Regions from separate parts of the Homo sapiens genome. Here region 2 is linked to region 1. Evidence: fine-mapped expression QTL. Tissue or cell type: whole blood. Region 1 holds a variant in brackets; the other region holds the start of a gene. All regions are shown on one strand. Distances are between the middles of the regions.

The links. PIP is the estimated chance that this variant, and not a neighbour inherited with it, causes the effect.
Region 2: MFSD2B starts here. The variant in region 1 is fine-mapped to the expression of MFSD2B in whole blood (INTERVAL, PIP above 0.99).

The regions. Positions count from the first base shown.
Region 1 is chr2:24,165,983-24,174,086 of GRCh38, forward strand. FAM228B (family with sequence similarity 228 member B) reads left to right here. Exons shown (of 11, transcript NM_001145710.2): 10 at 1,645-1,701; 11 at 3,374-3,656. The coding sequence ends at 1,687. It overlaps LOC105374328 (a long non-coding RNA gene), which reads right to left. Exons shown (of 4, transcript XR_939833.4): 2 at 1,838-2,075; 3 at 460-581; 4 at 18-57. Among named protein-coding and RNA genes, the nearest start is that of FAM228A, 5.0 kb to the right of the region's middle. The variant C/T (reference allele first, on the strand shown) is at 3,195.
Region 2 is chr2:24,005,857-24,013,957 of GRCh38, forward strand. MFSD2B (MFSD2 lysolipid transporter B, sphingolipid) reads left to right here and starts at 4,229. Exons shown (of 14, transcript NM_001346880.2): 1 at 4,229-4,336; 2 at 7,429-7,554. The coding sequence starts at 4,241.

The sequences.
Region 1 (8,104 bases):
GGTGAGCTGAGATCACGCCACTGCACTCCAGCTTGGGCAACAAGAGCAGAACTCTGTCTAAAAAAAAAAAAAATATATATATATATATATGTATGTATTCACATATATATAGATAGATAGATAGATATAGGTGTTTACAGAACATAGATTTCTCATCCTAAGGTAATGATGGTTAAACTTGGTGGCCATTTGACTGAGATAGCCCAGCCTACCATTTCTGGGTCTAGGTGGAGCTTCTCCCTCCAGTTCTCTTGTCCAGAGTCAGCCTCTTAGGAGTGTATTCGAGAAGTCATGGCCTTCCTCCCCACTCCCAGTTAGAAATCAGCACGTGAATGGCCTGTCTTCTGAGTATCCTTCAATCTTGCCATCTTCCTTTCTGACTGTCTCTCCATTTCCCCACTCCTACCCTTAAAGGACAGGGGTGCTACTTTTTTTACTCATTCATGAAAATTTACTAACCTTTTCTTTTGTGTGTTTAGCTCCTTTTACTGCCATGTTTTGGTATCCTCCCATGTGCTTGCTTGCTTGCTTCCTCAAAATTTTAACAAGCGCCAACTCTGAGCCAGGCAGTGTTTGAGGGGCTGGAGACACAGTGGGAAACAAAACAGAGACGGCTCCGATTTCCTGGAGCTTACATTTTGATGGGGAAATAGACAGTAGTCAACCAAATAAACACATAACATCACGTGAGTTAGTAATAAGGAAAACAAAGCAGGTAGAGGGGGTGGGGTGGGAGAGTGGGGGACGAATGAAGAGGACTGTTTTAGGTGGAGAAGTCAGAGGAGGCTTCTCCTCTGAGATGACGTTTGTGCAGCAGGCTGAGGAACCCAGGGAGTGAGGCGTGGAGAGATCTGGGGAAAGAGTGTTGCGCAGATGGATGGGCCCAGGCAAAAGCCTGAGATGGGAGTGAGGCTGGTGTGTTCAGGAAACAGCAAGAAAAAGTGGGGAGGCTGAAGATAGTGAGTGCTGAGAGAGGGCGGGAGGTGAGGCTGGAGCAGAGGCAGGAGCCAGGCAGGTTGGGGTTACAGGCCGGGAAAGGGAGTTAGAATAAAATTCAAAGTGTGAGGGGAAGCTGTGCGGAGGTCTGGAGTAGGGGGGAAATCATATCTAATCAGCATTGTACAAAGAACATGGCTGCCGCATAAGCAACTGCTGATGCTGGAGCCGAGGCAGGGCCGTCAAGGCAGTTGAGGGTTCCAGGCCAGGTGAGAGCGAGGGCTCCAGGCTCCAGCGTGGGTGGAGAGGAGCTGGCAGAGCTCCCTTGTTAGCGTGGAAGTGGGTGAAAGCGAGAAATCAGTGCGGAGGGGCCTGGGTGGATTGTGGTTCTAGTCACTGACCTAGGGAGGTCTAGGGGGAAAGCAGGTTTGCAGGGAGAGAAGTGCAGAAGTGAGGAATAACCGTGTTTGGGGCTGATTCCATTGCAATCATTATAATACCGGAGGAGGATTTGTAGGGTGTGATTTTAGAGCAAATGAACTCTTCCCCTCACTGTCCATTTAAACCTGTTCTGTTGGGGTTGGTTCTTCTCCTGCCCTGGGCATTCTCAGATAATAAACAGCCTCTGGTTATGAAGACAGTCTGTTCAGTAACTAATATGGCCAGTCTCGTATAACATAATGACCAAAGCTTCAATCTTCATTTAAGGTCTCCCTCCCCGCGTTTGGGGCTGCTGAAGCTGGAGCTATAAGAAAGAAGAGGGAGGTAGATGTCTTCTCTCTTTCCCTTCTTACTCTCCTATTCCTTACCCCTGTTTCTTGCCACTGTGATTTCTGATATCTTCAGAGTCCACAGTGGGAGGGAGGAAAGAGAAATAATGGGTGGGTAGGAAAGTTCTTACCTATTAATTTTATGATGATCTATTTCAGTGTAAGGCATTCTCTGGGCTTGGCAGGGGTTTGAAGCTAGTGGTTTTTCTCATGGGGCACTTCCAAGTGATCTTCAGAGAAAATTCCTATTGCTTGGAATTTCTCACCGGATTTCTTTTCCAGGTGTTTGCTTAGGACTGTCTCTGGCTCTAAGCATCTGATGGAACTGCCACTACTTCATTCTTCACTTAGGAACATAGCCTCTATCACCTAAAGAGATACTGAGACTAAAATTAGATCCATTTCAGTATCTTTGTAGATGCTCATCCTATACCCAAGAGGAGATATACAGTAGGCAGGTGGATGTACCGGTCTGGAGTTCAGGGGAGACTGGGGGTGGAGACAGGTTTTTGAGAGTCATCCTCATATAGATGCTATGTGAAATCATGCAATCACCTGGGGGTGAGTGTCAAAGAGAAGAAGGCCGAGGGTTAGTCCTGCGGAACGCCAAGATTTAGAGGTTGGGGCAAGGAGGCAGAGCTGGTGAAGGAACATTCATGGAGCGAGAGGTTGGTATGGAAGGAAGCAAAGCAGAAGTATGTGCTGCTGCAGAGGCCCAGTAGAGAAAGGGTTTCAGAAAAGAGGGCATGCCCAGCCATGTGGCAATGCTGCTGAGAGGGAGGTAAAATGAGGACTGGGGAGATATAGGCCTAACTGCTGATTTTCATCAGAGAGGTTAAGTGGAGCAGCTGAAATGAAAGCTGATTAGAGTGGGTTCAGGAGAGAATTGGGGTGAGGAAGTGGAGACAGAATAAGCAATGCTTTTGTGGGGTTTTGCTATAAAGTGGCTGGAGAAGGTAAGGTAAGGGAATATTTTTATCAGCGATATTGATATTATAACATGTATGTTTCCTGATGGGAATGCTCCCATAGAGAGGGAGATTTGATGATGCTGGAGAGAGAGGGGGTATAATAGAAGGGCAGAGTCCTTCCACAGGTGAGGAGGCAGCACCCTGGACTCAGGTGGACAGGACACTCTATCCATTGTATGAAGAGGGAAGGCTGAGTACATGGATATAGGTCAAACTAGCTCAGTGGATTTTGCAAAGGAAGATTGTTTCCTTCTGTTTACTCATTTTCTCAAGTGAGATCATCAGCTGATCGCGAGGCACAGAATAGAGAATTTAGAGGTTTGAAGAGAAAAGGGAAGAAAGGAACCTAGTATTTTCTAAATCACAACAATCCAAGTGGAAATTAGTACTCCAAACATGTTGACATCTGAAAGCTGAGACCACAGGGGTTCCCTCAAATCATGTCACACATCAGTGATCCACCCCATCTATTTGACCATGTCCCTGAATCTCTCAGTGCTTCTGACTCCAGACAGCG[C/T]GAGGAAAGGCTGAGGCAGGAGGCCTAGGTGGAGACCCTGCCTGAGAGATGAGTCACTCGGCTCTGGCAGGACAGGCTTCAGGGGGATCAGCTCAGCTTAGCTGGGGAACGCTTTCTGCTCTCGTAAGCCCCTCATCCCCATACCACACTCAACTCTTCCCTTTTGTCACCTTCAAAAGGTTTCAGCAACCAAGGAGCACACACCCTGATCCTTGATTGGTGAAAGGATACACAAAATCAGGCTGCTTCAGAGGAAGTCATCTGCTCACAGGAATCAGGGTGAAGGCCAAGGACGGCACTCAAGAATTGTCCTGTCTCTAAAAAAAAAGCATCTGCAACGAACTTCCTTTAATTTTTGAGTTCAGTGTCTGTGATAATTAAGAAATGGCAATACCATGTATTTTCCCCAGAAGTTAAGAAATATTGCTGAACGAACCAATAAAAATAATTACAGCTCCCTCACTAAGTGTCCATCTCTGTATATTTGGCTTGTTCCTCAATTAAGGTATGCTCCCTTTGGTCATGCACACTTCATGGCCACATCCACATATCCTCCCCAGGTTTTCCCAACATTCTTTAGAAAATTTAAAAATTCATTTGGGGTTGGCCAGGTGAGGTGGGTCATGCCTGTAATCCCAGCACTTTGGGGAGGCTGAGGCATGTTGCCCAGGCTGATCTCGAACTCCTGGGCTCAAGCGATCCACCCGCCTCGGCCTCCATCTGAACACCTGTCTTGAGGTCAGGAGTTCGAGACCAACCTGGCCAACGTGGCAAAACCCTGTCTCCACTAAAAATACAAAAATTAGCCAGGTGTGATGGCACATACCTGTAATCCCAGCTACTTGGGAGGCTGAGGCATGAGAATTGCTTGAACCCTGGAGGTGGAGGCTGTAGTGAGCCGAGATTGCACCACTGCACTCTAGCCTGGGTGACAGGGCAAGACTCCATCTTAAAAAAAAAAAAATTCATTTAGGGTATAATTACTCACTTGCTGATTCTAAACATTGCCCTCTGGCTCATGTTGAGTTTGAATCTTGGTCACAGGAAGACACAGTAGGACACAGAGCATAGAAGAGTGGAATTCTGTTTTCCTTAGGCAAAGGGACACCATGGTAACCTTTTCAAAAGACTTGGGGGAGTCTGACTTCTTCAGTTCTGTCTGTTCCCCAAATATATATAATTCCAAGATCCCCCTCTTTCCTAGTCAATGCCCTAGATTTCATATAAAAGACTGGCAGCAATGTTAATCCATCTGGAATTGCAATTCAGCAACCTACAGGATCAATTTATGAACTTGAGGGCCACAGATGGAATAAGATTTATTAAAAATAGTGGCCCTATATTTTAATGCCTTGCACATTCTGGCATCTGAGCTTTATATTATCTTGCTTTAAATTATCCATTTTTCTCTCATTCCATATTCCTCATCCTCTTTAAATTATTCTACCCTGACAGTTATCTAGTCTCCCAACATCTCACCCCTAATCAATATATGGTTCTAAGTGAAACTAGATTTTCTTTCTTTCTTTCTTTTTTTTTTTTTTTGAAACAGGGTCTCGTTCTGTTGCCCAGGCTGGAGTGCAGTGGCATGATCATGGCTCACTGCAGGCTGGACCTCCCAGGTTCAAGCAATTCTCCGCCTTTCAGCCTCCCGAGTAGCTACGACTACAGGTGTACGCCATCATGCCTGGCTAATTTTTTGTATTTTTTGTAGAGATGAGGTCTCACCATGTTGCCCAGGCTGATCTTGAACTCCTGGGCTCAAGCGATCCACCCGCCTCAGCCTCCCAAAGTGCTGGGATTACAAGCATGAGCCACTGCACCTGGCTGAAAACTAGATTTTTAAAACTTTATACTATGCACAATTTCAGAGAATTACAGAAAAAATAATTATAATTGTATAATGAATCCTTATGTTTCTGACATCCAGCTTCAATACTGATTACCTCATGTCCAGTCTTGTTTTGTGTATATGCATACCTACTTCTCAACCCTAACTGGATGACTTTGAAGCAAATCCCAGATGTCGTATCACAAATATAGTTGCTCATTCCACATGGTGAAGAGAAGATGCCTTTCCTTTCCCTGCACTTTGACACGAATACCAATTCCAAATATCTCACATTTCCTCTGAAGCCTTGTACTATTTCTGTATTATTTGAGATCATTTGTATTGCAAGTAACAAGCTAACCAGAGCTAACATAAGCACAAATGGTCCCTGGTGGTCTAGTGGTTGGGATTAAAAAAAAAAATTTCATTGAAAGAGTGCCAAAGCATCTTACAGAACCCTGAGAAAAAACTGAATTCCACAGGAATGGCAGGAACCTTGACAGCACTGGCCCCTGAGCAGCAGGCATCTCAGACCCTTCTAGGCTGTTGTCATGAACGTGACTCACAACACCTTTCCAAGTCTCTGTTTTGGTTAGACGTCTATAATCCTAGAAGAAAGACAGGAGAATCTGATCCTAGACTTGGGTCAGGTGTACACTCCTTGACCAATTAGCCACAGAGAAGAACAGGGAGGTGCTGCCATCGAGTCCACCTCTGGCCAGGTGAAGTGGCTCACGCCTGTAATCCCAGCACTTTGGGAGGCCGAGGAGGGTGGATCACCTGAGGTTAGGAGTTTGAGACCAGCCTGACCAAAATGGCAAAAGCCCATCTCTACTAAAAATACAAAAATTAGCTGGGCATGGTAGGGGGGCACCTGCAAGCCTAGCTACTCAGAAAAGCTGAGGCGGGAGAATCGCTTGAACCCAGGACGGGGAGGCTGCAGTAAGCCAAGATTGCGCCACTGCACTCCAGCCTGGGCAATAGAGCAAGAGACGCCATCTCAAAAAAAAAAAAAAAAAGTCTACCTCTGTGAGTGGAGTCAGGGATTTGCCAGAGATGGGACCACGCAGGCATCTCTAATCCACCATGTGGAGCAAGGAGGCCAGGAATCACTGAAGAAAGCTGAGCCCAAAAAGACAGGCAGGAATCTTACAGGTCATGCTAAAGCGTTTGGAATTTATGGGGAGACCCTGAAGGATTTTATAATACTCTAGTTCTTGGCATTTTTTCCCTTTTATATTACTTCATCAGTCAAAACAGACTTCTAGAAATCACATCAGCATTAAAGGGATATTGTTACTTCACCTTGACTTTTTATAGAAGGAGAAAAGTCTCGGTAAATCAGTTCTGTTCCATGAATCAGTCATTACTGCCTTCTCCATAGCCTTTCCTTCGTTCAAGTAAATTTAGAAATTTCTTAAGTTTTCTTTATAACAGGTAGCCTAAATCTATATCATACTTTTAAAATAAAAATCTAGGTGCAAATTTGTTCTTATGGTTAAGGTTAACATGTACACTTCACAAACATTGAGACTTTTGTTTTGTTTTCTGGGACAAGGTCTTGTTCTGTCTCCCAGCTGGAGTGGATACAAGCATGGCTTGCTTCAGCCTCAACCTCCCGGACTCAAGTGATCCTCCCACCTCAGCTTCCTGAGTAGCTGGGACTACAGGTGCCTGCCACCATGCCCAGCTAATTTTTAAACGTTTTGTAGAGACGCGGTCCCATTGTGTTGCCCAGGCTGGTCTTGAACACCTGGCCTCAAGCGATCCTCCTACCTCGGCCTCCCAAAGTGCTGGGATTACATGCATGAGCCACCATGACTGGCCTAGACTTTTTGATTTAAAGAGACTTTTTGGATAGAAATGCTTTTCTCTATTACAGTTATAAATGACTAAAAATACTAGCTATGCCAAAATGGCAACCAGAGGCCGACTGCAAAGCTTCAAAAGGCTTGATGCTCTCCTGGTAGACAAGTCTTCAGTCTCTTAAATGTTTTTTTCATATGTTGACATTGAAATTTCATTTTGTGTAGATGTTGGGATTATGTCTCATTCATTTATTTATTCATCATTCACTTAGTAAGTATTTAAGTGCCTGTTTTTCCCAGGTGCTCTGCCAGGTTCTGGGGATATAAGGATGAGCCAACATAGGCTCTCTGCCCTAAAGTTAGTGGGAGAAACAGTAACAAAAGATTTTAATACTATGAGATTAACTGACTTAGTTGTGGTATGTAGAAAGAGACACAGAGCCTGCAGCAAGAGCCTAGGTGAAGACTCAGTGAAGCACTACCTATTGAAAGGAGAATCTTTCAAATCCTTAACAGTTATTTTCACCATGTAAAAAAGGCGACATTGCCAGGGAACATCAAGTAAAGAGACAAATGCTCAGGTAAGCTTTTAAATCATATGAGATTGAAATAAGTTGATTCAGTAAATCAGGGAAACTTTTATTTTCAAATGAAGTAAGGAAGAAGCTAGGTAGAAATTAAAAATCCTATTTTGTATCACCTTTTGCTTATACTTAATGTAGTTTAAGCCATCAGTATATTATACTTTTCTGTGTATGTCGTCTACTCAACAGGAATTTTCTGTTCGCCTGCTATTTGGGTCAGTCATAGATGGTCCCATGTTATGAGAAAGATGTAAAGATGAGATAGATTCAGCTCCTTTTCTCGAGAAGATTATACCATATAAGGAAGTAATTTGCTGAATGGTCTCTCAGTTAGCCTGACTAGAATCTCTAAATCATGGTCTACACAGCAGTAATGAGGAACTTTGGCCCCTCAAGTGTCAATGAAGGCCAACTGGGGCACCTGGATTCCTATCTCCATCTGGCAGTAATGAGGTGGTAACCTCATTAACCCTGTTAGATTGGTGTTGGAGAAAGCCAGCTAAAACAGAAAGTTTAAATAAGATCCAGAGTCTCATAATATAAACTGAAAATGTTCAGACTTCAATAGAGACCAGCACTGAGATGACAAAGATGTTAGAATAAGCTCACAGACTTTTAAAGTTGCTATGAGAAAACTGCTTCAATGAGCAAATATGGATACACTTGAAGCAAATGAAAAAATAAAAA
Region 2 (8,101 bases), 160 kb before region 1:
AGTGAGCCGAGATCATGTGGCTGCACTCCAGCCTGAGCGACAGAGCAAGATTCTGTCTTGAAAAAAAGAAAAAGAAAAAAGTAAAAAATAAAAATTAGAAATTAAAAACTACTAGTAACATTTTGATGTGCATCCTTTCAGATATTTTTTAGTATATCAGCTTTTAGTCTTGTTTTAATTAAAAGGCAGCTGCCTTTGTTATTTAATCCTACTTTATTGAAATCTAATTTGTCTTTTGCATTAAAAATTACATTATGAACTTACCATCACTTTAAATAGAATACTGACTGTTAGGGAAATGACTTTTATTATAATTACATTTTTTGCTGTCCAAAAGAGTTATTGTTTAATTTTTTTTTTTTTTTTGAGATGGAGTTTCACTCTTGTTGCCCAGGCTGGAGTGCAATGGTGCGATCTCAGCTCACTGCAACCTCCACCTCCCAGGTTCAAGCGATTCTCCTGCCTCAGCCTCCCAAGTAGCTGGGATTACAGGAGCCCGCCACCACGCTTGACTAATTTTATGTTTTTTTAGTAGAGACGGGGTTTCGCCATGTTGGTCAGGCTGGTCTTGAACTCCTGACCTCAGGTGATCCACCCACCTCAGCTTCCCAAAGTGCTGGGATTACAGGTGTAAGCCACTGTGCCCAGTCATTTTTTAATTTTTAAAATTGTTTTTACCTGCTGCCTTTCAAACTTAAAATTGCAGTAGTATAAACAACAAAGTACAAGTGTTGAGAATGCAATATTTCCAAACCTTTTAAAAATGCGTATCAGTAGGATGTACTTGAAAGTAGATTGATTATCTAGCTGAACACAGTGGCTCACGCCTGTAATCCCAACACTTAGGGAGGCAGAGGCAGGAATAAAGCTTGAGCCCAAGAGTTCGAGACCAGTCGGAGAAACATAGCAAGATCCTATTCTCCACAGAAAGGAAAAAAAAAAAAAACCCACAAATTGTAAAAGTAGATTATCTAAAGAAACTTTGGCTTTAGTTTATATTTAATTTCCAAGGAATTAAATATTTAGCACATGCATTATCTAATCTATCCTTGTATTTGCAATCAGGGAAACAAAATGTACCCATTTTGTAGATTAAGGAATTAAGACATATAAAATGGAATGACTTGCTCTAAACTGGGTAGTGTATCCTTTAGGATTAGATTTAGCTGTGACAGAAAATCCAGAATAATAGTTGCTTACAAGGTCAAATTTTATTTCCCATGCAAAAGTCCAGAGGGAAGCAGTTCAGGGCTGGTAGATCAACCTCATAAAATCATCAGATTCCTGTACTGTTGATCTGCCAATCTCATCACTCTGTAGACTTGGGGTCTCAGGGTAGCTGCACTAGCACCAGCCGACACATTTGTATTTCAGCCAATAGGAAGAAGCAGATATCTTTCCTTTTAAACAGCTTTATTGAGATGTAATTCACATGCTGTGCAATTCACCCATTTAAAGTATACAATTCAGGCTAGGCCGATGGCTCACTGTAATCCCAGCACTTTGGGAGGCCGAGGTGGATCACCTGAGGATCAGGAGTTCAAGACCAGCCTGGCCAACATGGTGAAAGCACATCTCTACTACAAATACAAAAATTAGCCGGGAGTGGTGGCACATGCCTGTAATCCCAGCTACTCGGGAGGCTGAAACAGGAGAATCACTTGAACCCGGGAGGTGGGGGTTGCAGTGAGCCGAGATCGTGCCCCGGCATTCCAGCCTGGGCAACAAGACTCTGTCTCAAAAAAATAAATAAATAAAAATAAAGTATACAATTCAATGGTTTTTAGTGTATTTATAGGGTTGTGCAACCATCACAATTTAACTTTAGAAAATGTTTGTCCATTCTAAAACCTCACATGCCTTAGCAGTAACTCCCTAGCCCAGTCCCAAGCAACTACAAATGTACATTCTGTCACTCTCTATTTGCCTATTCTAGACATTTGACATAAATGGAATAATACAATTTGTAGTCTTGTGACTGGCTTCTTTTACTTAGCATACTGTCATCAAGGTTCATCTGTGTTGTAGCATGCATTGGTCCTTCATTCCTTTTTCTTGCCCAACAGTAGTCCATTGTATGGATATACCACATTATATTTATTCATTCATAACCTGATGGACATTGGCTTGTGTCCTCTTTGGCATATATATATACACACACACATTATATATATATGTATATATATATGAATGCTGCTAATGAACATTCATGTTCAAGATTTTATGTGAACATGTTTTCATTTCTGTAGGGTGTATACACCTAAGAGTGGAATTGCGGGTCATGTGGTAATTCCACGTTTTACTTTGAGAAACTGCCAAACTTTTCCAAAGGACTGTCACTAGTTTCCATTCCCACTAGCAGTGTATAGGGGTTCTGATTTCTCCACATCCTCCCCAATACTTGTCTCATTTTAATTACAGCCACCCTGTGGATATGAAATGGTGTCTCACTGTAGTTTCGATTTGTATTTCCATGTGCTTACTGTTCATTTGTATATCTTTAGAGAAATATCCAAATTCTTTGCCCATTTTAGAATTGGATTGTCTTTTAATTGTTGAGTTGTGAAAGTTGATTCCAATACAAATCCCTTTTCTCCCATTCTGTGGGTTGTCTTTATACCCACTTGTTGGAATCGTTTACAGCACAAAGGTTTTCATTTTGAAAACTTTTGTAGTTCATCCAGCTTGTGCTTTTGGCGTCCTAAGAAACAATTGCCTGGCCCAATATGATGAAGAGTTGCTTCTGGGTTTTTTGTGTTTGGTTGGTTTTGTTTTTGTTTTTGTTTTTGAGACAGAGTCTCCCTCTGTCACCCAGGCTGGAATGCAGTGGCACGATCTTGGCTCACTGCAATCTCCGCCTCCCGGGTTCAAGCGATTCTCCTGCCTCAGCCTGCCGAGTAGCTGGGATTACAGGCATGAGCCACCGTGCCTGTCCCTTGCTCCTGTTTTTTCATAAGTTTTACATTCTAGGTCTATGATGCATTTTTAGTTAATGTGTACCCCTGTTACTGGTGGAAGGTATCTGAGTCACGTGGCACCAAAATATGTCAGCAGGAGTGAATCTATATGGGTCTGCAGCAACCTCAGTTCCTGCCTCCTCAGAAGAAAGAATTCCACTGAGGGGCATAAGGCAGAAGGAGAGACTGAGGCAAGTTTTAGAGCAGGAATAAAAGTTTATTAAAAAGCTCTACAGCAGAAATGGAAGGAAGGAAAGTACACTTGGAAGAGGGCCAAGCGGGTGACCTGAAAAAGAAGCGCACAGTTTGACCTTTTGACCTGGGGTCTTATGCATTGGCATACTTCTGGGGTCTTGCATCCCTTCTCCCCTGATTCTTCCCTTGGGAGGCCTGCCTGCATGGGCAGTGGTCTGCCAGCACTTGGGAGGGGAGTGTGCACACTGTGTATACTGGAGTTGTACCCATGCTCACTGGAGGCGTTCTTCCCTTACCAGTCCGGTGTCCTTCGAGGGTCACATGTCAGTTAAACTCCGCAATTTGTGTAAGCCCACTTGCCCAGCTCCTGAGATCTTACCGAGAAGCTGATCACCAGTTTCAGGTTTTCTCTATCTATTGGGAGACTGCCTTTCCCTGGCCCCGCTGGATCAATGATCATTTTAGAGGGAGCATAACAACCGCCTGACTGTCGCCTGATGGTTGCCTGACGTACCTGGTTGGAAGCGTGGCCCTCTCCTGCCCTTTTCGAGGCTGACTAGCTACCTGCTGTCACCCCCCTTCCCTTTTAAGGACTTTTCTGGAATGTTGGCCTGTGCCACCTGCTTTTATTCGCTGGCCAGAACTTAGTTACTGGCCATCCCCGTGGTCTGTATAGGAGACTCGACAATGTATATTTCAGGCGTTGGGCATCATGTGTAGCCGGCGGAATGCCTGTTCAGCCATGGTCCAGCCTGAACGAGCGGGCCTCTTGCTTCATTTTGCAGGGGAGCTGCTGCTTGCCCGCGGTCACCCCAGCGGTCTGGCGGAGCCCTTAGCGCGCAGGGCCGCCGTCTGCGGGCGCTCACGCCCCCGGGGATCCACCCCAAGGAGAACGGTCCTGAGGGCCTGCCGGGCCTTTCCCCCCGCGGATTTTGGTTCTTCGCTGTTTCCCTTTGGGGTGCCCTTCGCGGTTTCTGCGTTTCCCCCGCGTTGCCAGCAGCCACTCGCGCCGCGCCCCTAGCCCAGAACCGCCCCTCCCAAGGGCGATAACCCCGAGGGCAACGGCCGCGGGCGGCGCTGCGGTGGCAATGGCGGCGCCCCCTGCACCAGCCGCCAAGGGGTCCCCGCAGCCGGAGCCGCACGCCCCAGAGCCCGGCCCGGGGAGCGCCAAGCGAGGGCGAGAGGTGAGCGGGGCGGCGGGGACCGGGAAGGGGCTGCGTCCTCGGGGAGCTCCAGGGCGTCGCCTCGCAGCCCCTTTTCCAGCTGGGGGCAGCCCGGAGGGGCTCGGCCCAAACCTGCCAGCTCAGGGGCTGCCCTCGCGGGGTTACACGGCTGGGAGCGGGGAGGCTGGTAGGTGCCGGCGCCGGAAAGAGACTAGGACGGGAAGCCTAGCCCTAGCCAAGGAAGTAACTTGGGGATGCGTGGTCATTGCTGTCCTGATTCCCGGCTTAGGGGTCTTGTCCGTGCCACCGCAGGTCCTCCCGGGGTCCCCGAGCTCTGGGCAGGCAGGGCTTTCTGAAGCGCCTGGGGAGGCTGCGTCCTTCCCGACCTCAGGCAGCTGCTGTGGCCTCGGCCTCCCTCCCAGACCCTGGCCTCGCCCAGGCACCAGGCTCCCCTTGGAGGCAGCCTCAGGGAAGGTCCTGGCCATGGGCTCCGACAAGAAGGGAGGAGGGCAGGTGGGAGCGGCGGGGTCTTCGGGGCCCCTTGTCCCTTGCCCGATGCCGCCGGGCCGTGCTGGCCAGTGGGGCTGTGCTGGACGGAGCAAGGGGCCTGGGGCTTCCTGGGCCTCACTGAACGCGCCTGCTCCCTGCTCGTGCCCAGGGCATTCTGTGGCCTCCCCTGACCACCTCAGCCCCCAGCCTGTTCAGGGCTTCCTACGAGGCACCTGGGAGCACAGGATTGCATCCCACAAGAAAGTGAGGTGAGATGAAGGGGCTCTCCGGGGACTCTCACTTCCCAGGGAAACTTAGAAATTCAGGGTGAGATTAACAGCAAGAGGGAAACACTCGCATTGCTGATGAAGTTCCGGCGTGGAATCCTCTTACGACTCTCCGAGGGGTGGCAGCCCCGGTCACTCCAAGGAGACCGAGGTGCCCTGCCCTGGGTCACGCAGCTAGAGATAGCAGGGCTGCGCCCCTCGCCCGGAGCCGCCCCTCCCAAGGGGCTTCTCCTTGTACAGCTCACTGTACAGCTGTACCGGGCTTTTATGACTTTCGGTAAAACTGTCATCCTCAAGACGGCAAGATGGGATCATATCCCTGGCTTCACTTGGAAGTTCTTTCTAAAGTTCTAAAAACTTGCTAGGCCTGTTTTGGGGGATACAAGAGTCCCCATTAGGGGGAGAGGGGGACTGTCACGTTGAATTCTGCCTGTTCTTAAAGTTTTCTGGAAGCTGAAATGATGTTCACACAAATGTCAGAAAAGAATCATCCTGCCCCCAGTGTGGTTTTCCCCTGTGGGTAGGAAGAGTGTGCAAAGTGTGATAAACCCTTATCTGGGGAGACCTTCCCTTCACAAGAGCCTGCTGGGGTGTCCTGCAAGATGTGGAAATGGGTGAAGCCATGTCATCTCCACTCCCTCCAGCCCCCAGCAAACGATGAGAAAAGAGCCCAGCTTCTTCCAAAGAAACAGCACTTTACACAGGGTCTTCATGGCCATTTATTGCTTCAACGGATATATACTAAGCACCTACTGTATACCAAGCTTTGTTCTAGGTACTGGAAACACCATGATAAATAAAAGGTGGAGTTCATGCTCTCAGAGAGCTTACATTCCTGTAGGGAGAGGCAGGAACTAAATGAAAATATAGCAGGCGGTAAGTACAACTGAGAGAGGTGAGAGGTTAGGGAATGCCTCTTGGAGGAGGTGACATTTAAGCTGGTGACATCAAACCAGAATGACAAGGAGTCACCTTCCAGGCAGAGGAATGGGAAGGGCAAAGGCCCTGAGGCAGCAACAGACTTGATGATTTTGAGGAATAGGAAGGAGCCCGGCGTGGCTGAAGGAGAGCTATTTGAGGTGAGGTGGGTAGGGGGCCGACTGGGTGGACTCCTTAGCCATGATCAGGACTTGGAGTTTTATTCAAACTGCAATGGTATTGACTGAATACCATGGATCTGGAAACAAACAAACAAACAAACAAAACACACACACACACACACACACACACACAAAAACAGACAAAAAAACCCTGCAATAGCAAGCCATTGGAGAGTTTTAATCAGAGAGGAGATGGGATCTGATTATTTATTTATTTATTTATGACTGAGTCTCTGTCACCCAGGCTGGAGTGCAGTGGTGTGATATTTGCTCACTGCAACCTCTGCCTCCCTGGTTCAAGCAATTCTCTTGCCTCAGCCTCCTGAGTAGCTGGGATTACAGGCGGCCACTATGCCTGGCTAATTTTTGTGTTTCTAGTAGAGATGGGGTTTTGCCATGTTGGGCAGGCTGGTCTTCAACTCCTGGGCTCAAGCAATCCACCTACCTCGGCCTCCCAAAGTGCTGGGTTTATAGGGATGAGCCACTGTGCGATTTATGTTATTACAAGAGCACTGGCTGCTGGGTGGAGTGGATTGTAGGGAGCAAGGGCAGACACAGAAGCCACTTAGGAGGCATTCACTGATAGACAAGAACTGGAAAGAAGAATAGATGACTCCTAAGTTTGTGGCCTGAGCCACTGAGGGGACCAGCGGTGCCATTTGCTAGGAGCTGGATTAGACAATGGAATGGCCATCAGGAGCTGTATGTAGACCATGCTAAGCTGAGACGCCTGCCAGGCATCCCTGGAGGGCTGTGGGTAGGCAGGCTATGGGTAAATGAGCTATCGCCTCATTTACTCATCGAAGAAACAACTTTGTGAAGTTGGCAGGGATGTTGCATTTGACAGATGAGGAAAACAGGCTTAGAGAGATGATGTGATTTATTCAAGGTCACATAGAGGGGTAGGTGACAAAGGCAGGCTCAAGCCCAGGTCTCCTGACCTGCAGCTTACACGGCCGTGCTGACTCAGTAAATGATGGCGGCTTCAGCAGGAAGCCCAGGGTAAGATGTCCAGAAGAACTTCCCCCCTGGAAATGTTTAGAGGTCAGGGTTTAGGATCTTTTTTCTCTTCGTCTCACTTCCTCTTAGGATGACATGGGGGCAAAATGGGGCTGAGAGGTTGCTGGAAAAGCCCTGAAGACATCACAGAGACTCAGGATGTTTACTGAAGTCATGGGGTGTGGGGACCTGTTTTGTGTCTGTTGGGAGAAGGGCTTAGTTCCTGTGTCTCCTCCAGGACAGCAGAGCCGGTCGCCTCTCATTCTGTACAAAGGTGTGCTATGGCATTGGTGGGGTCCCCAACCAGATAGCCTCCAGCGCCACAGCCTTTTACCTGCAGCTTTTCCTGCTTGATATAGCACAGGTAAGTGTGGGCAGTAGCCCAGTCTCTGCTGGCATCTTCCTTGGGGTCTGGTCCTTCCACCCCCACCTCTGCTTCTGCTCCCACTATCCTTGTAGACAGCACTTCTGACACGAGCTCAACAAAAAGCCAGAAGCCAATGAGGGCAAGGTACTCAAGAATGTTTACTGCAGCCTGTTTGTAGTGGGAAAATGAGAAACAATGTAGATCCCCGACAATATAGAAGCAGTTGGCTAAGTAAGCTGTATCATAGCCACATAATAGACCAAGCCTGTCCAACCCGCGGCGGGACGGCTTTGAATGCGGCCCCACACAAATTTGTAAACTTTCTTAAAACAGTATGAATTTTTTTGTTTTTTTTTTTTTTTAGCTCATTAGCTATCATTAGTGTTAGTGTATTTTATGTGTTTATATGTGGCCCAAGACGATTCTTTTTTTTTTTTTTTTTTTGAGACAGAGTCTCACTCTGTTGCCCAGGCTGGAGTGCAGTGGTGTGATCTTGGGGCTCACTGCAACCTCTGCCTCCCAGGTTCAAGCGATTCTCATGCCT